5 separate regions of the Homo sapiens genome follow, and all the other regions are reported to be linked to region 1. Evidence: microRNA targets listed by miRTarBase, many of them from high-throughput screens and not tested one by one. Region 1 holds a microRNA gene; each other region holds the end of a gene's coding sequence. Distances are from middle to middle.

What was found. The annotated mature microRNA hsa-miR-580-3p reads UUGAGAAUGAUGAAUCAUUAGG and lies in region 1 at 2,790-2,811, opposite strand. An mRNA with a match to its seed (bases 2 to 7 or 8) in the 3' UTR can be bound and repressed. Matches are read on the target gene's strand: a 7mer-m8 pairs with bases 2 to 8, a 7mer-A1 pairs with bases 2 to 7 and ends in A, and an 8mer does both.
Region 2: miRTarBase lists DUSP16 as a target of hsa-miR-580-3p. Seed matches in the 3' UTR shown: 7mer-m8 at 2,717-2,723 and 8mer at 1,747-1,754.
Region 3: miRTarBase lists DMRT2 as a target of hsa-miR-580-3p. Seed matches in the 3' UTR shown: 7mer-A1 at 859-865.
Region 4: miRTarBase lists ZNF131 as a target of hsa-miR-580-3p. Seed matches in the 3' UTR shown: 7mer-A1 at 3,109-3,115.
Region 5: the mRNA of IKBIP is a reported target of hsa-miR-580-3p. The part of its 3' UTR that is shown has no 7-base or 8-base seed match.

What each region holds. Positions count from the first base shown.
Region 1 is chr5:36,145,118-36,149,269 of GRCh38, forward strand. MIR580 (microRNA 580) reads right to left here and starts at 2,871; the gene lies at 2,775-2,871. The region is part of intron 1 of LMBRD2 (LMBR1 domain containing 2); the gene reads right to left.
Region 2 is chr12:12,473,123-12,477,122 of GRCh38, forward strand. DUSP16 (dual specificity phosphatase 16) reads right to left here. Exons shown (of 7, transcript NM_030640.3): 7 at 160-4,000. The coding sequence ends at 3,711. Among named protein-coding and RNA genes, the nearest start is that of DUSP16, 88 kb to the right of the region's middle.
Region 3 is chr9:1,056,680-1,060,679 of GRCh38, forward strand. It overlaps DMRT2 (doublesex and mab-3 related transcription factor 2), which reads left to right. Exons shown (of 4, transcript NM_181872.6): 4 at 1-873. The coding sequence ends at 594. Among named protein-coding and RNA genes, the nearest start is that of DMRT2, 8.3 kb to the left of the region's middle.
Region 4 is chr5:43,174,866-43,178,865 of GRCh38, reverse strand. It overlaps ZNF131 (zinc finger protein 131), which reads right to left. Exons shown (of 7, transcript NM_001330707.2): 7 at 2,544-4,000. The coding sequence ends at 3,733. Among named protein-coding and RNA genes, the nearest start is that of NIM1K, 15 kb to the left of the region's middle.
Region 5 is chr12:98,622,153-98,626,152 of GRCh38, forward strand. It overlaps IKBIP (IKBKB interacting protein), which reads right to left. Exons shown (of 3, transcript NM_153687.4): 3 at 2,097-4,000. The coding sequence ends at 3,778. Among named protein-coding and RNA genes, the nearest start is that of IKBIP, 21 kb to the right of the region's middle.

The sequences.
Region 1 (4,152 bases):
CTATATTCCAGTTGTCTGATGTAGTTAGTACCTGGCATACAGTAGTATCAAGAAATATTTGTTGAAATAATAAAAAATACTGTGTAGTTTAGTACATACACTATTTTTCTATTACTGACGACTTCAAAGGCAATGTAAAACTCGTGTAATGGTAAACTGATTTAACAAATACTTATTACAACTCAAAAGGCTTAAAACTCTGAACATTACCAAATACTACTCAAATTTTCAAATTTCATATTCTATGAAACAACTTATACCACAACAAAGTCAAATCTTATGTTTTAAAAAATAGACAAGGTTTTGCCATGTTGCCTGGGCTGGTCTCGAACTCCTGAGCTCAAGTGATCCACCTGCCTCAGCTCCCAAAGTGCTGCAATTACAGGCATGCGCCACAGCGCCCAGCCAAATCTTATTTTTAAGCTAAGCATAGATTAAGTAGTTGGCTGAAAGCTCAATGCAGAATGTGCTGATAACAAAACCATCTTCGAGATCTAGGGTTTTTTTTCTTTAAAAAAACCCAATTGATGTGAGTTTAAATATAACATAATTAACTGAAAATCCTTTTATGACTTGAACTAGACCTGAAATTGTCCAGTGCAAGGAATATGACAATCATACAAAAAAAAGACTAAATATTAGAGATTACCAAAGAAATGCTAAATAAAGCATGGCAGAGCCAAATGATGAAATATTATTGTAGTATAAGAAATAATGTTTGTTAAGATTATTTAATAACATCAGAAAATTACCCTAACAGCAATTGAAAATTTGGCACATATTTTTACATAAGCATAAAAAAGAGTAAGGTAACAATGAAATATATTAAAACATCAATAGTCTTTAGGTGGTAAGATTATGGGCATAATAAGCAAACAACAAAATCAGTTATAAACCTGACACTAGCTATTAATTTTTTTACTATGGCACTCTGTTTTTCAGTCTGATTCATAGTCAGCACTTTAAAGGGTTGTAGATGAAGAAATAGAATTATGGATCCTTTATTCTAGTAATAAATGATTTGGTTACATACCTTCCCACACTTCATGTGTTAGTATCTTACCACTGCTGTAACAAATTACTACAAACTTAGTGACTTTAAACAACATCCATTTAGTATTAATATCTTATAGCTTCTGTAGGTCAGAAGTTCAAACATAGCATAGTTCAACTTAGTTCTCTGCTTAGGGTCACACAAGTTTAAAATCAAGGTGTCAGCAGGTTTGCATCTTTCTCTGAAGAAGAATCCATTTCTAATCTCATTCAGGCTACTGGCAGGGTCTCACACTGTCGCCCAGGCCGGAGGGCAGTGGCATGATCATGGCTCAACATAACCTTGAGCTCCTGGGCTCAACTGATCCTCCCACCTCAGCTTCCAGATAGCTAGGACTATAGGTGCACACCACCACGCCTGGCTAATTTTAAAAAAAAATTTTTTTTGTAGAGACAGGGTCTTGCTATGTTGCCCAGGCTGGACTCAAATACCTGGCTGCAAGTGATCCTCTCACCTTGGCCTCCCAAAGCACTGAGATTTCAGGCATGATCCACCTAGCCAAGCCAAAACTCAGTTCTTTATGGTTATAGGACTGAGATCCCTGTTCCCCTGCAAACTGACAGCTGGCATTTAACCTTAGCTCTAGAGGCCTCTCCCCAGTCTTTGCATGTGGCTCTGTATATGTTTTTAAATTGTATATATTTAAAGTGCACAACAGTGATGTTTTGATATACTGTACATATACAGTGAAATAATCACCATAGTCAAACAAATTAACATATCTATCTCCTCACTCACTTCTCTCTCTGCGTGTGTGTGTGTGTGTGTGAGTGTGTGTGTGTGTGTGTGTGTGTGTGTGTGTGTGTGTGTCTGTGGTCCTGAATATTTTAGAAGCAGCAATGGCTTGTCAAATTCTTCTCACACTTGAAATTTGTTTTACAGGGCTTATCTGATTACACTGGGCCTGCCTGAATAATTTCATCATTTTTACTGGTTCCAGAGATAAGAGCATAGACATTCTTAGGGGTTTATTATTCTGTTTACCATACCATCTATTTCTGTTGAGGCCGAACTATATTGCCTTATTATGACACAGATTAGGACCAGTGATCCCATGAAACTGGAGATAAAAATTGGGGTTTTCCTAACTTGAGAAAATAATAGTTTCAAAGTCCATATCTTTAACCTTGTGCCAACATTCAAGTGATGAGTTGCAAGGTTTAGGGAAGAAGGAGAAGAAAGGGGATGATAATGATGATAATGATGATGATGGTGATACTAAAATGGGGAGGTAAATAAAAATTCAGTTCCATGTGATTAAGCACCACAGTAGCAAAACTTGATTATACTCGAAATCAAAATGGCAATTCATTAAAACTACCAGATTTTAGTGCCCGATGTGTGGGCATATCGTACCCTTCAAAACACCAGTTCTGAAAGTCTTAAACATTTAAAATCCAATTCAATCTTTTTCCAATCATCAAAATATTATTCAATATTACTTTCAAATGCCTTTATAATGGTTTCACAATTAGCGTGTTAATGTTACTGACTAATGTTACTGACTAAAGTACTGTTTCCTGAGTACTTTACGGCTGATAATAGTTTTTCAGGCCAAATACCCTTTGATGGAACTTCAGAGGTTAAGATAATTTTGTAGTTTGAAGAATTCCAAATGTTTTGAGAGAGAGAGAGAGAGAATGGGTACCAAGTGATCAGAACACAAACAAAACACTGACAACAATTTTGTCAAAACCAAAGATTCTGAAACTGAATGAAAAATTTCTGACCGGAACCTAATGATTCATCATTCTCAAATACTGTTAACTTAAATATCTGAGTCTGATGAATCATTAGGTTCCAATTGGAAATTTTATCTAACTTCACATATCTGTATTTTTACTCAGATATGTGCAAAATAATAAAAACCAGGAGACAACTCAAAATCCTAATTATGAAAAATCAAAAGAACCAGAATTAGAAGTGAATGATTAAGTCAACAATTTTCCACCAATAATTAAATTTAAATCTTCCAAACATAATCGTTATTCACATATTTAAAGATTTCAGGTATGAGAGAGTTCAGTTTAGGACACAGACTACTGCAAGAGACTATTACTCCCACTCGAAAAATGAAAAAAAAAAAAAAACCATCATAATATTTTTTAAAGGTACCTAAGAGCTGAGTTGGCGAACCAACCAGGTAACCTGAATTCCAAAATGTGACAAGCCCCTGAGGACAGTGGCATACTGTCCTGCTTTACCTTTTGCAAGGCATGAAGAGAAGAGGTAGCAATCATGTAAGCATATAAGAAAAAAGAACTAAAATTTTACTGAATTCTTAAAGATTTCATACATAGAAATTGCAAGACATTTTGATAGAGAATAATCTGTAAAGTCCTTCCTAATAATAAAATAATTTCAAAAAACGAATAGCTAACATTTAGAATGTGTTCACTAAATTTTAAGCATTGTATTAATACTAGTACCTGCCAAGCTTTATCAAATTAGACCTCACAACCTAGTAAGAAAGGGCTGTTCGTTTCCTTGCTTAACAGAAAAAAAACAGTGCAGAGAGGTTAAGTAACTTGTCCAAGTTAACAGAGCTGGTGAATGGTAAAGCTGGGATTCAAATAGAGGCATCTTTACTACAGAGCCTGGATCATAATTACATGTCTCTTCTCTAATCTAGACATAGTTTCTTAATGCAATTTAAATTGCTTAATGATTTATTTTGTTCAGTCTTCACAGGGAACAAATTAGAAACTTTCTCCCATTTCTTTTAGATATATCAGGACAGAATGCTTAGTCATGTTTAATAAAGAATTTAACGCAAACTTTTTACATTACAGATTATACTACTATTACTTGATTTAAGGGTAATATATGACTGTACTCTACATGGGAAAAGTGGAAAACATAGAGTAAATTAGAATCCGTTTGTTCTTGCCCCAAGCTGCCTATCTTAGAGCATTAAATTACAATGAATTAAAGATCTACTTAGTTCCAAGCACCATTCATTCATTTAGCAAATATTTACTGAACGCCTACTATATGGTGAGCTCTGTTCAAGGGGCTGGAGATAGAAAAATCCAAGCAAAGTCCCTGCCCTTAAAAAGTCTAGTGGGAAGAAACAGGCAATTAAAAAAAATACATTA
Region 2 (4,000 bases), not on the chromosome of region 1:
ACCCACACCTGGCTAATTTTTGTATTTTTAGTAGAGAAGGGATTTCACCAGGTAGGCCCGGTTGGTCTCAAACTCCTGACCTCAGGTAATCCACCTGCCTTGGCCTCCCAAAGTGCTGGGATTACAAGCGTGAGCCACCGCCCCCAGCCTCCCCTCTTAGTTTAATTCCTGGTCTAATTGTAGTTGTCACATCCAAACCAGTCCTCCAACAATAGCCTGCTGAGGCTGGTCATGAAGGGGCTCCGAGCACTGTCAGCAACTGGCCTGAACTTCAGGCTCTCCCAAGATCTGCATCTTCTCATTGGAAGCCTCTCACTGAAACAACTGTTCCTCCTGTTACCCTCTATCTCTGGAGGCTGATTTATTCTAATTCCCTTTATTCCTCTATCTCACTTCCACCTCTTTTTCTGCAGGGTCCTGGCCAAGATAGCTCTTCTAGTCTAGCTCACCCGGCCCAATCTTTCTTATAAATTTTCTTAAATGTAACTTCAACTCAACCAACTTCAAGGTCACCTGTGATTCTTTCTGTAGTCAATATTCCATCTGTTTGCACTGAAGCTTTATTCCTTCAATGCCTAATTTTTATGAAACTGATGAGACTAAGTTTCTAGTCTCATAAGTCATCAAATCTAGTGTCATGAGCAGAGAGGTTGTTGAGATGTATGTGGCAAGGACAAAGGACAGCTCTTCAACAATTGCCCTTCCTGTTTTTCCTGTAGGAATCGTAACATCATTTACATGTTATATCGAAATGGGCCATGTGTGTGTAGCTGGCCTTTTTTTTCCTACCATGTACTTGTGTGTTCTGGAATCAGTCAGCTAGAAAATATTTACCAAGTGTCTTAGGCTTTTTCACTGTAGTGTGCATTTAACGTACACAGTAAAGAATGAAGGCTGGCACTAAACTGTTAGCTAATCATCCGGTGTTCCATGTGAATGACAGAACACGGAATAAACCTGATGACACCACCACTTTATTTTGAGCTAAATCCTCATTTAAGTGAGAACAGGACAGGTTTCACCACTGCCTCCTTTGGCAACTTGAGTGGTGGTGTTCCCACCGAGTTTATGGCTGCAAAGATAGGTCTTTTCTCGTATTTATGTATAAACAGGTACCAGTTTTGATTTTATTTAATCATTTCATACATTAACATACATGACACATCAAAATGAGAAATGCACAGTTTAACCGTTCAACAGCTGGCCTTACTTCAAAAGAACACTATATTCATATTAAACATTTACAGTCTTTCCATCTAACTTTACACATGTCCTAAATCATTTTCCAGCACTTCTCACATAGAAGTCTAGTTTTGCTCTTTAAAATCACCATCTGTATCACCCCTAGTAGACGCGAGGGTTTCCCCAATTACATGCTGAAGAGAGCCAGCCACCACCCCACCTAAAGACATCCAAGCAGCTCCAGAGCCTGCCTCCGAGGCCACCCCTTCGCCACGGCAGTCTCGATTCCAAGAACTGATTATCTGACACTAGTGAACCAGCACTAAAGGCTGTAGGATGTGACTACATCACAGTTCCAGAAGGAAGGGGGACCATGGCCAAGAGAAGCCCTAAATGACAGAAGCTCATTAAAACCAAGTCCCCCAAACCTCCTGAAACATCGTTAGCAAGGAGCTACTGCTTTCCTTTCTTAAACATGTTTTGGGCATGACCACACTCTGGAAGTGGTGAACTGTTACACATTTGGTGTGTGTGTACATAACATCAAAAACTACTGTGTGAAACTTGAGAATGTCTGATTAAAGATTTCAATGTATATCTAAAAACTAACTCAAATCGTTGACCAGCACTTTCCCAGTATCATAACAATGCGGCTGACCCTCTTCTGCCTTCACTTTACACCCCATCATAGCACATTATTTGTGCACAACTAGTGAGGTCTGTGCGGCTCATCATCCCCATAACCAAGTCGGTCTGTGTTGAGTCATATCATTCTGTGCTGGTTTTAGAAGTCACCATAGGAAACATGAAGTCACATCCTGGTCAAAAAACTGTCCATTTCTCAAAAACAGAGAAAAACCTGAGATACGAGGCAGCAACTAGCGACACTTACAGGAAGGGAAAGAACAATGACAACACCCGCCCAGCCCCACCCCCAAAAAGCTGCTGTTGTGAATTAAGGCTTCAAAAGAGGACCCACATTGTAGCTGATAAAACTCAAGCCAGGAGGATGTTTGAAAGCCAATCTGCACTATCACTTGTTCCAGTGACCTCCTATGTTCAGCTGCCAGGACCGATTCCATACAGTGATTGTAGGTTGAGGACTGAGGACGCCCCTTTGCTCTCGCTCCATTTTGATTTGCTTTTTCCACTGAAGACACGCCGGCCAGCGTTTCCAAAAACAGCTTGGCCATGGCTTTGCACTCTATTCACAACTGATCAAAACTCAATGGTCTTCTCAGCTTTCTCAACCGTTTTATTCTGAATATTCCTTCCTCACTAAAGCCTCTCTCAGCCCTACTAGTAAATGTGAAAGTCTGAGGCAATCATAGAAACATCAGCCCCATCGCATGCCGAGGGGATAAAAGCCACTAAGGAAACAGGTTTCCTGCTTCTCCTCAGCAATTTGTACCTTTCTTAATCTTCCCATAATTTACCTCCCTAGGAAGTTTCCTATAAAATTCTGCCATATTATTACATTTTACCAACTGTATCCATGCAGTGAAGCAGAAAGGGCAAAAACATCTGCTTTGGCTGAGAATTTGAAGGTGCTGCTGCTCTGCTACCAACCCAAATAAATTCACATTTGGCTTGAAACCAAGTTCATCTTTATTTAAAGGATTGACAATCCCATTTTAAACAATTCTTTGATTTACAAAGAGGGAGGTAGACTCGTTAGCCTCCCAACCTTAGCTTAAATCGTGATGTTGCCAGGTTCCTGGTGGTTCAGCTGAATCCTAGACAGTTTCCCTTCTCTTCATAAAGCTGAGAAGAAAAAAAAATTATCTCCATCTAGGCCCACGGGAATTTTGTGCATAGACAGTTTGAATTGGTCTGAAAAGTGTGACTAGCTACCTACCTATTCACAATGCCTAGAAAATGGGCTACCAGATATGGTAGTGGTCAAAGCCCCGACTTTCCTGTCTGAGGTACTGGGTTTGCTCTAAGGTAGACCTTGGCAAGGCCCCTAATGGTCCGTCCAGCAGAGTGATGCTCGTGTCCCTCGGCTGTCAGGTGAGCGTGGGTTTGTGAATCAGCTTTGGATAGGATCATTTCTCTTGGATTTACCACTAGGCTCTGTCCCTAACAGGGTCTACCTACCTGACCCCCAAGCTGGCTCAGTCTCAGCGCTAAGGTGTACTATGGAAGGGTCCGGACAAAGACTAATATTTGAGATCTCTTAGTAGCACAACGTGAAAATGGTAGGGGATTTTGTCCTCCAACACCAAAGACACTTGCTTTTTTAAGAACAAGAGGATGTGTAATTCACTGAATAAAATGGTTTTCCTCCGTCTAGGGGGGATTCTAGCATCTGCCCTTCCATTTTTGTTGAGAGAAGTATTAGCTGATCTCTCAAATGCAGATGTTAAGAGAGTAACAACTGGGTTGATCCACCTGTTGCTTTTACACCATAGCTCCATTTTCCAAAAATATATATGTATGTACATATATATATTTCAGATTTACAGGGAATTTTTTTGTGAACAAGAAAAAAAAATTGTCTATAGAAGTCACAAGTGTCTTTCTTCTCAGGAGACCTCAATGATTTCCATGCTGCCCGAAAAGCTAGACTGACTGCCCACTTTCCCCAGCTCTTCCCGTGACCTGTTCTCTGACATGATGCTCTCTCCAAATTCCATTTGGCAGCTTCTGCGTTTAAACTGCTTTTCAAAGGGGCTCTCTTCATGCCAGCTCCGCCGCGAGTCAGCTCTGTCACTTGGCTTCTGCCGCCTGCGCACAGAATAGACTTGGTCTCCGCAAGTGGGCAGCTGGCTGCAGCTGTAGGCAGAGTAACTGGCACTGCCTCCGTAGATGGCTG
Region 3 (4,000 bases), not on the chromosome of region 1:
ACCTCAGTTCAAGCCCTGAAGCCTGGGGCCAGCTGGGACTTGAAGGGAGCACGAGTCCAGGATGGACTCAGTGCAGAGCAGGACATGATGCCATCGAAATTGGAAGGTTCCCTGGTGCTGCCTCACACTCCTGAGATCCAGACCACGAGAAGTGACCTTCAGGGTCATCAGGCTGTCCCAGAGAGGTCCGCGTTCTCCCCACCCCGACGGAATTTCTCTCCCATTGTTGACACGGACTCCCTGGCAGCTCAAGGGCATGTCTTAACGAAGATCAGCAAAGAAAACACCAGGCACCCTCTGCCACTTAGACATAATCCATTCCACTCATTATTCCAGCAAACACTTACTGACAAATCGGGTCCTGAGTTGAAAACACCATTTGTCAAAGAGGCCTTTGAAGAGACCCCTAAGAAACACAGAGAGTGTTTAGTTAAGGACAACCAGAAGTACACATTTACAATAGATAGATGTGCAAAAGACCTTTTTGTAGCCAAACAAGTTGGAACAAAACTCTCGGTGAATGAACCACTGTCATTTTCTGTTGAGTCTATTCTTAAGAGGCCTTCATCTGCCATCACTCGTGTCTCTCAGTGAAAGGCTGCTTAAACAGAAAGCTGGATTTTCTGCAGTCTTAGAGCATTATAGCCATTTGCTACTTTTTTTAAAAGTTAAGATGTTTGTGTAAAGAAATTTCTAATGTAAAGATGATGATTTTGAAAAATTTTATATATTCCTAATATGCATGTACTTTTTCTTATCACATATATTTAAACTTACAGATGGAAATTGCCCAATGTGCAAATTGTTAAGTACCACACTTTACACAGCATTTCAAAAAGCAATAAAATTGACACTGTCTTCTCAAAGACCCAATATTTGCCGAAGCAAATAGCTGTCTCTGTCTAGATGAAGAAGCTATTTTTCTATGATTCTGTATATTTGTATATTTTGAAGTACTCTTAATGGTCACTGGGGGCCACAGGAAAACCTTTATAATACTTTAGTTTTGCATTGTGGAGGGCACATAAATTTAATTATTCGAGACTGTTTGAGGCAAAAATCACTTTAAGGAGAACATAGGGCCATTTGCATGTTTACAGTATCTTCATTTCACGTGATTGGACAAAGCTGAATTAATTGGAAGGGAAATCAAGTGTAATGTCTCTTTTACATTACATTAGATGGTTTGGGTTCTTGGAATAGATTTCTTCTGACTCCCTGGGTCCCAGTTTCTTTCCCTGGCGAGGATGTTTATGTGGGGCCCTAAGCTTCCTTTCTAGAAACATTTCTAGTTTCTTTGAACAGTCTATGATTTTAGGTTGCTAGGAGCCACAAATCAGGTTTCCTTTTAAGATGTGGTCAGTACTGATGGGGCCCAAACCTCCTCTCAGCTCTTGTGTGAGTCCACTGTTTCTGAATCACTGGTGACAGCAGGCATTTGGATGCAGGCCCAGTCACAACTCTCATCCGGTCCCCAAGTATCAGCTTTATGCCTCCCACATTTGCACCACTGTCAAAGGCCTTCAGTGTAACTCTCTTCTGACACAAAAACGTTTAGTATTCAGATTGCTTCAGCTGACAGTTGCTGAAGCTTGCAGATGTTTATCACAGCATGAGGGTGGCTTCTTAATTCTTACACCTTTTCTCCCCCCACCCCCCCTTTTTTTTGAGACAAGGTCTCACTCTGTCGGCAAGGCTGGAGTGCAGTGGTGTGATCATGGCTCACTGTAGCCTCGACCTCCCCAGGCTCAAGTGCATGCCTGTAGTCCCAGCTACTCAAGGGGCTCCACCTCCCAGGCTCCACCTCAGCCTCTTGAGTAGCTTGGACTACAGGCATGCACCACCATGCTTGGCCAATTTCTAAATTTATTATTATTTTTGGAATATGTGCAGAGGTAAGTTTTTAAAAATTTTGGTAGAAACAGGGTCTCCCTATGCTTCCCAGGCTTGTCTTGAACACCTGGTCTCAAATGATCCTCGTGCCTTGGCCTCCCAAAGTGCTGGGATTACAAGCATGAGCCACCACACCCACCATTTCTCCCATTTTTAAGTTCTTGTTAATCTCTTGTTTTACTCAGTAAAATGTTAGCTGTTGTTCCATATAATTGATAAAATAAGAGTAAGACTTTTATGAGAGTACTAAGTTCATCTCTTAAGACCTCACCTGTGGACCCCAAGTGAAGTTTAAGGTGTCATAGTCATTCTAATACAAAAAATCAAGAGTCACGTATCTCACTTTTAATACCGCCACAGAGGGAGGTTTTACGTCAAATTCTGCTACTGTCTTCTGGGTAACAAGAACATGAGGTGGGTATGTGGAAGATGCCAAGTGATTCAGCAGTGTGAAAACACTTTGAATTACTTAGAAATGATTTTGCTACTAATGACCTCATGTAAACCTCCTGGGATTCTCTGAATTGTTGCTTAAAATTAGCATCAATTTCAAAAAACAACAAGCCAAACCTTGGGTTGACTTTCAGTTTGTACTTGTAAAATAATACTTGGTTTTATTGAGTCAAATTTAGTTATTTGTATTATTGCAAAAGTCAGAGTGAATGGACGTTTGCCAGAGGCAAAGGATTTGAAAACAGGCAGAGATTCCAATAACTTTTAAAGATTATCATTAAGCGGAAAAATGTTTTCCAGCCAAGTGTGCCCTGATGTCAGAGACAGAATCTAACTCCAGTTTTCCCTCCCAGTCGTCTCTGCTTTGTCTATAATCACTAATTTTTGTCTTTCTATTGGAAATTTACTTTTTTGTTTCAAGTGTTAAATGTATCCTTAGCATTTAATTAAACTGCTTCAAAGGTAATGAGGGGGAACGTATTAGAATAAAAGCACATAAAAAATCTCAGTGAGAGGTCTTCTCATCTAAACATGAATTTTATCTCTTGCTTGCTCCACTTTTGTGTTTTGAATACTTATATTTGTTAAGATGTTTCTCTTTTGTATTCAGTGAACACATGGGGACTTCTTTTCGGTCCTCTCTCTCTGTATCATTTTAATCCCATTATGTGAATCCAGTTGGCTGTGGGTATTAGTGGTTTTTCTCACATTACCAGTGACCAGAATTTTATTGTTCTTGAACATTTATGAGGGTCACTACTTCCCCTGGCAAACTTATTATTATACTATGAATTAGTTCTGCTGTAATGAGTTCTTTGAATTTTAAAACTACCAAAGGCCGGGCGCGGTGGCTCACGCCTGTAATCCCAGCACTTTGGGAGGCCGAGGCAAGCGGATCACGAGGTCAGGAGATCGAGACCATCCTGGCTAACAAGGTGAAACCCCGTCTCTACTAAAAATACAAATAATTAGCCGGGCGCGGTGGCGGGGGCCTGTAGTCTCAGCTACTCGGGAGGCTGAGGCAGGAGAATGGCGTGAACCCGGGAGGCGGAGCTTGCAGGGAGCCGAGATCGCGCCTCTGCACTCCAGCCTGGGCGAGAGAGCGAGACTCCGTCTCAAAAAAACAAACAAACAAACAAACAAAAAAAACTACCAAATCTACCGTCAGCCACTTGTTAAGAGCTTTGTGCTTGGCTCTTTGCTTTTGAAAATCATTTCACTTCCATGAACGTGTCATATAGAATCTTCAGAAAACACTGCCATTGACATTAAATCAAACTTGGGATTCGATTTAAGCATTTTCTCTATCGAAGGCAATAAATGGATACAGTTTTAATAGTTTTCGAGAATGTAAAGGATAGTAAAACGTGGACATTTTTCTCAATTTAACTCACAATACAATAATACAACTCTAATGACATGTTATCCTTCCATCTCAACCCATCAAGCATGATCGTTAGCTGAATTTGCAGTTCTCGAAAGTTTACAACAGTGCTTCTCAAACTAATGGACAATTGAACCACCTGAGAATCCCGATGCTGCTGGGCTTCAGGCCACACTTTGAGTAACAATGCTTGCAGCATTTCTGGTATTTCAACGCACATTTAATATTATCTGCTGTGGATTTTGAGTTGTAATGCAATCATCATAATAT
Region 4 (4,000 bases), 7.0 Mb from region 1:
GCCTCAGCCTCCTGAGTAGCTGGGATTACAGGCATCCGCCACCATGCCTGGTTCATCTTGTATTTTTAGTAGAGATGGGGGTTTCACCATGTTGGCCCAGGCTGGTCTCGAACTCCTGAACTGGTGATCTGTCCACCTTGGCCTCCCAAAGTGTTGGGATTACAGGCGTGAGCCACCGTGTCCAGCCAGGTAGCCTTTTTAAACTGGTAAGACTACAAGAGCCTTCTGATTTTGTACATATCCAAAAGATGTCTAGCTTTTAAATGTATTGCTAATGTATTCAGTTTAGTTTTTCTTTCAATCTCAAATGATAGGTGTGGTGTAATTAAAAAAAAAAAAAAAATAGGCCAAGCACGGTGGCTCATACCTGTAATCCCAGCACTTTGGGAGGCTGAGGTGGGTGGATCACCTGAAGTCGAGAGATCGAGACCAGCCTGACCAACATGGTGAAAACCCGTCTCTACTGAAAAAAAAAAAATTAGCCGGGCATGGTGGCGCATGCCTGTAATCCCAGCTACTCGAGAGGCTGAGGTATGAGAATCGCCTTAACCTGGGAGGTGGAGGTTGCAGTGAGCAGAGATCGTGCCATTGCACTCCAGCCTGGGCAACAAGAGTGAAACTGTCTAAAAACAAAACAAATAAAATGGATTTGGGTTTTTCTCCCTGGTTCCTTGCACACAGCTCCAAAAATCCTTGTAATTTCCAGAATGTCTTTTGTTATTCATTACAAGCCCCTTTTGATCTTACCAGTTTATGCTAATGAGATGACTACTGGCAGAGGGCCCCTAGATAGCTTCAAGATGGGCACGGGTCACTAGAGGAACCAGTTGTATTAAAGGGCTACAACTATTACCCCCACCCGAGACCTCCAGGGAGAAGAGGGGCTGGAGATTGAGCCCGGAGGCCAATAATTTAATGAGTCTAGGTTATAAAATGTCAGTAAGGGAGCTTCTGAGTTGAACACATCAACATGCTGGGAAAGTGGCATGCCAAGTGAGGGCAGAGAAACCTCTACTATTCTCCTCCACAACCCCCTCCATCCACCTTACTCTATGCATCTCTTCCATTTGGCTGTTCCTGAATTGTATACTTACTGTAGTCGTTAAGTATAGTGCTTTCCTGAGTTGTTTCAATGCATTATTGAACTTGGGGGGATGGGAAGGCCATAAGAACCCTAAATTTACGGTTGGCTGGGCAGAAGCGCGGGTAGCCTGTTGATCGCATTTGTGGCTGGTGTCTGAAGTGGGGGCAATTTTGTGGTACTGAGCACTTAACTTGCTCTAAATCTGGGTGGTGTCAGATTCAATTGTTGGACACCCAATTGATGTCTGAGAATTGCTGTTGAAACGGAGTAGAGATAGAAAAGCCTCTCATCGTTCTCAGTGCACTTGGGACTTATTTCTATGTGATCATCATTGCACACTCTACTGTCCAACTTGGTACCTCATACTGTAGACTTATCTTAAAACTCCAGTACAAATACAGTAGAACACTGGAGGACTAAATATCCAGTTTGCTTCAGTACTTGAAGCAAATATACATCAGTTGTTAACAGCTGTTTTATGTTCTACATAAAGTGCTTTCCAACTACAAAATGTTATTCAACATACAGTTTATCACCAGTAGATAGTTTTCCTCTACTTTTGCAATCAAATTTACTGGCATTCTGGGTACACTGATAGCTTCTATACCTTTTGGGAAAAGAAAAATGAACTATATCTGCATCTCAAATCTACCTCGAAAGGTCTTGACAAATGTGAAAACTCAAATAATTTTAACACTTTGATGTACCTTTGCCCTTGATCTTTACCTTGTGGTCAGAACTCTTGTTTTAAAATCCTTGTTTCATACCTTAGCTTAAGGGCATAGTATGCGCTATTTTCAGCATTCAAAATTCACCAGATACTAACTAGTAATTTACATATTTGAGACCACTATCTGTTAGGGTTTTTTTTCTTAAACAACTCAGGAACATTGGCATCCTAAGGCAAACTGAAAATTCACTGGGATATAATTTAATTATATTATTGGTATTTTCCAATTTCAAATAAAAACTATACTGTTAAATAAGCTTTGCAGTAGATACCCAACTACCAAACAGTACACACTTGGAAGTGTTCATACCCTTATTTTGATCTTAAAAACGTGGCCCCCTTAATACAATGGTTGGCTCTATCTCCAGATTTATATCTAAATCTGACTTCTCCAATGCTGGGAAGCCACTCTCTTCAGCGTATTTTTGTAAATGTGATACCATTTAACGTCACGATTACCAAAGGGGGCTAATCGCATTGGTCTTTTACATTTGACACAGTTAAGTGGAGAATTCCTGCTATTGTGCCTACCATGTAAGAACTATTAGCATAAAGAATATGAACTACTTCCATGCTTTTGAGCTGATTTTGGGGGGTTGGAGGTGTGATGGAAAATTTATCACAATTCATGCATCAGTCATGTTAACACGGGTAAAGACACATGAGGAACTATCTCTGCCCAGATATAAACTTTCACGCTGGTAATTTTTTAAAAAAGAGTCATGAACACATAATTTTAAAGTTTACTTAAAAAATGTAAAGAACTCCCAATATTTAACAGGTAAAAAAAATAGCATATTGGTCTATGGGTTTGTTATATTTTATTTTCCAAGTAATACTGATTAAAAATATTTACACACCTACTTTTAAGTCCACAGTTTAGCACTCTTATTTGTATGGCTTTAAAAGTTATAGCACAAGATCTTTACATTAAGAATTGGGGGAAAAGATTCCATTCAAAACAAAGCCTGATAATTATATACATGTCTTTCTCTGTACTTTATTTTAAATACATTAATTTTTAAATGCTGCTCATCTTTTTCTCATCTGGTGGTAAAATACTAGTGCAACTTTTCATCAAAATAAAGTTTACCACAGATGTAAATAAATTTTCCCAATTGAAAATGGCCCTTCAGTGGCCATTAAATAAAATTTCTCAACCTAACTTAAGTGAAAAAGAACTGGTGGTTGTCATTATAACCAAAAATATAAAGTATTATAGCATCATCTACATTGCTCCTTACAACACAAACTTTGAAAGAACCAGAGATGCTTTATAGAAGTTCAGTTGGTTTTGAGAAGGCACATGGGTGTGGATTTTTTTTTTTTTTTAACATTCTAGAAATTTTGCCACCACCACTCTTTCTGTTGCAAAGATGGCATCTGTGACTACTGGGGTAGACAAGAACGTTTGTTCAAACTAAAGAAAGCCAGAAGCCAAAATTTAACTGCACAGTAACAATGCACTTTTCATCATGCAGCCTTGTGTTTCCTATATTATTCAATTTTCTAACATGCATTAGAATACATAAACTTGTATTCTAATGATTTAAGTTTGATTTTACAATATGGAAAAAATTTGAGGAAGAACATGACCTGGGAAAGAGAAAAGGAAGAACTTTTACCACAATGAAAATAGATACATTCGTACCCAACTATATAATAAGAATATAATCCATTTAAGTTTCCAGAAATATACTTCTCAAAACTCCCCTTCAGTTATGGAAAAGATCCCTCCTCTGTGGCAATAAGTAGGGGGAGGGGAATCAATGTGTTTCAACGGACAACAGTTCAGCACAACAGGAAACAGCTTAACTTTGGTCCACTTGTCTGTTAGGCTTAATTAAGGACAGTCAAACTGCCCATAATCAGTTCAAAAACCCAACAAGTAAATTTAAAAATATATTCATGTGTAATTTCATTCTAAAACTGGCAGAGCTGTTCTGTCCTCATTCTCTGCCTTTTCTGCTTCAGAATCCACTGTTGGCTTGGTCTCTAAATCCTCAGCATCTTCGTGATCTTCCCTGGCAGCCTCAGCAGCATCTGCTTGGCTAGACTCTCTCTCCTCTTGGTTCATGATTTCTGGGGTCACGTGGTCCAAATCTGCTTCTAGAAGTTCAGTTTGTACTTCCACTGGCATTTGATTGACCCGTTCAACATGCAGCTCCTCTACATGTACTTCAGTA
Region 5 (4,000 bases), not on the chromosome of region 1:
TTTAACAGGTGCTGAAGTGTTAGTTCTCTCCTCTCCTGCTGTGTAAAGCTGGGGTGGAGTATTTTGATTTGTATTAAATTAATAGTTTATAGGCTGGGTATGGTGGCTTACACCTCTAATCCCAGCACTTTGGGAAGACCAGATGGGAGAACTGCTTCAGCCCAGGAGTTTGAGACCAGCCTGGGCAACATAATGAGACTGTTTCTACAAAAAAATAAAATTAGCTTGGCATGGCGGTGTGCACCTGTAGTCCCAGCAATCGGAGGAGCTGAGATGGGAGGATCCCTTGGGCCCAGGAAGTTGACACTGTGGTGAGCAGTGCTCACGCCACTACACTCCAGCCTGGGTGACAGAGTGAGACCCTGTCCCAAAATTAATTAATAGCTTATAAATTGAAATGAGCAGGTGCTAGGAAAATTTGTAGAGCTTTTGTCAACTGTGCAAATATGGGGTAAGTCTACAAAGGATGTTTTTTTTTTTTTCTTATTGAGTTTGGTAAATTTTCAGCATCATTACTGTGTAATGGCATCATATCAAAATTTGAACAATGTTATAGATTCATACAAAGGTCTACAATTAGGTTGAGAAGAAAAATAATACTACTAATTTTGCATCTTATGGGTTTTTCTATGAAGCCACACAGGCTAATAAATCAAGATTTTTGGTTATAAAATATACAAGTATAATTAGTCAATAGTTTCTGATCATTAAGCAAAATTTAAGGCAATATTACATTTAAAAATTATATATTCAAAAGTTTAAAAATAATTAGGTGCTTGTATTGTAAAAGTGATTTATTCCTGTTAACATTAAAAAAATTGATCCAGTACTTTTACTTTTTTTTTTGAGATGGAGTCTCACTCTGTTGCCAGGCTGTAGTGCAATGGCGTGATTTTGGCTCACTGCAACCTCTGCCTCCCGGTTCAAGTGATTCTCCTGCCTCAGCCTCCCGAGTAGCTGGGATTACAGGCGCCTGCTACCATGCCCGGCTAATTTTGTATTTTTAGTAGAGACGGGGTTTCACCATATTGGCCAGGCTGGTCTTGAACTCCTGACCTCAGGTGATCCGCCCACCTCGGCCTCCCAAAGTGCTGGGATTACAGGGGTGAGCCACTGCGCCCAGCTGATCCAGTACTGTTATGCTTTTGAGACAGGGTCTTGCTCTGTCACCCAGGCTGGGAATGCAATGGTGCAGGTCACTGCAACCTTGAACACCTGGGCTCAGCCTCCTGCGTCGCTAGGACTACAGGGATGCGCTTTTTTTTGACTTTTAGTAGACATGAGGTCTCACCATGTTATCCAGGCTGGTCTTGAACTCCTGAGCTCAAGCGATCCTCCCACCTCAGCTTCCCAGAGTGTTGGAATTATAGGAGTGAGCCATTGTGCCTGGCCTTACTCCTCCTTACACTTTTTTTTTTTTTTTTTTTTTTTTTGTAGGGACGAGGTCTCACTATGTTACCCAGGCTGTCTCAAACTCCTGGGCTTAAGCCACTCTGCCTCAGCCTCCCAAAGTATTGGGATTACAAGTATGAGGCACTGTGCCTGGCCACTTTATAAGAAATTAATTGACATAAAATTTATTATCAGTTACAAAGATACAAAAATGTGTTTTAGGATATTGGTAATTTTCCCTAAAGAAAAGACTAACAATGTAATTTAATATTTGATACACAGGAAAGTTTTTGAAATTTTAAGCATCTGTGTTAAATAAATGAATGGAAGAAAGAGAGAAAGACAAATTAAGTACATCTAAATCTCTCTAATAATTTCTTAATAGGAAAACCTCTTCATAAATACAGGATATATCTATCTAGATATCTATACATACATACAAACGCATATATACTTTAATAGTTTTCTCATGTTATACTTGTAGAAGTGCAGTTTTCTTCCTTTCCCTTGTGTCATTATAGAGAACAGTAGCCACCTTGTTTCCATTTACTTTCAGTAACCATTACCATGGTATATATAAGTTCATAATAACCTCATATTAAATGTGGTGATCGGTGAGAAAAAAATATTTAAACGTAAAGGATATAAGATAAGAGATCACATTTGCCTTGACAGGATGGAGGTTAAAACAACAAAGTTCCAGCTTACTTTATAATCTATTTTATTACCATTAATATAAAAGTAAACAAATAGAATTTTGTCAGTGCACGCAAATAAGAGACATTCAGAAGTCAAGAAGTGTAATTTTAAGACTGCAAAAATTAATGCTATGCCCCTTAATAACAGAACTCTCCAGGCTTATTTTCATGATTCACGCTGTCTACCACAGGCCCTCCTAACTCCAGTGGAGAAGGAGTTTGGGGGTTCTCCAAAAACTTGCAAATTTACATATTAAAACTACTTGACCACAACTACCTTTTTGTAACTGACTGCTTTCAAGTTCTTTGTGTTTAATTCCATCAAAAACTGCATTATAAAACTGGTAAGGTTATTGACAAAGAAACAAGAACAAACTTCCATATTGCAGTTGACTACATTATATAATTTCAAATAAAATAAAATCAATTCATAAAACAAATTTAGTGGTGTGGTTTGGGAAATCTTTAAAATGACGTATTTTTAACTATCATAGTTATTATCATAATTAATTATCAGAGTTATGTTACTTTTCCCTCAAAACAGGCCACAGGCTTATTTTTATTTATTTATTTATTTATTGAGACAGAGTCTCACTTTGCCACTCAGGCTGGAGTGCAGTGGCGCGATCTCGGCTCACTGCAAGCTCTGCCTCCCGGGTTCACACCATTCTCCTGCCTCAGCCTCCTGAGTAGCTGGGACTACAGGCACCCACCACCACGCCTGGCTAATTTTTTGTATTTTTTAGTAGAGACAGGGTTTCACCCTGTTAGCCAGATGGTCTTGATCTCCTGACTTCGTGATCTGCCCACCTCGGCCTCCCAAAGTGCTAGGATTACAGGTGTGAGCCACTGCGCCTGGCCTATTTAAGTAAACCATCTAGAGACCATGGATCTAGCAAACTCATGTCTAACACAGTTGGAACCTAAAACTCAGGTATATAAAGATATTTCAAAGATTTATATACACATAATTCCTAAGAAAGGCCTTATGTAAGAACATACTTACTCTGATTTTAAAAGTCTTACAAGTATCTGTAACACAGTTTAGAACCTTAACAAAAACTAAAATGTTTCCCAGGCTTTAGAGTTTTCAGAAAGTGCATATTAATTCATAGCAAAGGCACCAGGCTCTCCCTCAGGCATGTTATCTTTTATTTTACACAAAATTCCCATGAACTTGGTTGTGTGGATTCTTAACCTGCAGTGAATTACCTAAGAAAGTGAACTGGCTGAGGCAGGCACATTACCAACCAACCTGACAGTAAGTTCAGGTGACAGAAAAGGTATGAGACATAGGTTTGAAAATGGCAAATTGGGGTCATTTAGTGAAGTGGTAAATACTCTTTATTAGCCCCTGGAGACATCAATATATGTGGGTACAATATAATAGGTGAAATTAATGATGATGTTCATTAATGCTTTAAAAAACATTAAAAATATTAAGTATCTTGTTTTAAAAGTAGAGAAATATTTTTAAAGAACTATTTCTATTTCAAATAGTTACAATGAAGTAAGTTTTAGTGCTTAAAAAGATAAGCTTTGATTATGTGGATAATCCATTTGTGTGGACATCTCATTTATTTTCCAATAATGTAGGATAAGATGAGGCGTATCAAAGTAACTCAAAATCAATGGACTAATCAATTTATGTATAATGATATGGTTCATCAGAATAAATGTCATGAATTTAAAAATCACCACCAATTCCTTTATTTTCTATATTATATTCTTTTAAAGTTCCCTTTTCTCCTGTACTTGAGTATGCTATAAAATCATGAACTTTTTCTTTTAGAATATCCAGTTCATTTTGCATCTTTAATATGCTATTATCATACTGAATTCCTTCAAGGGTTTTCTGCATCTCCATTATTTCAGACACTGCTTTCAGCATATCATCTTCCATATTAAAC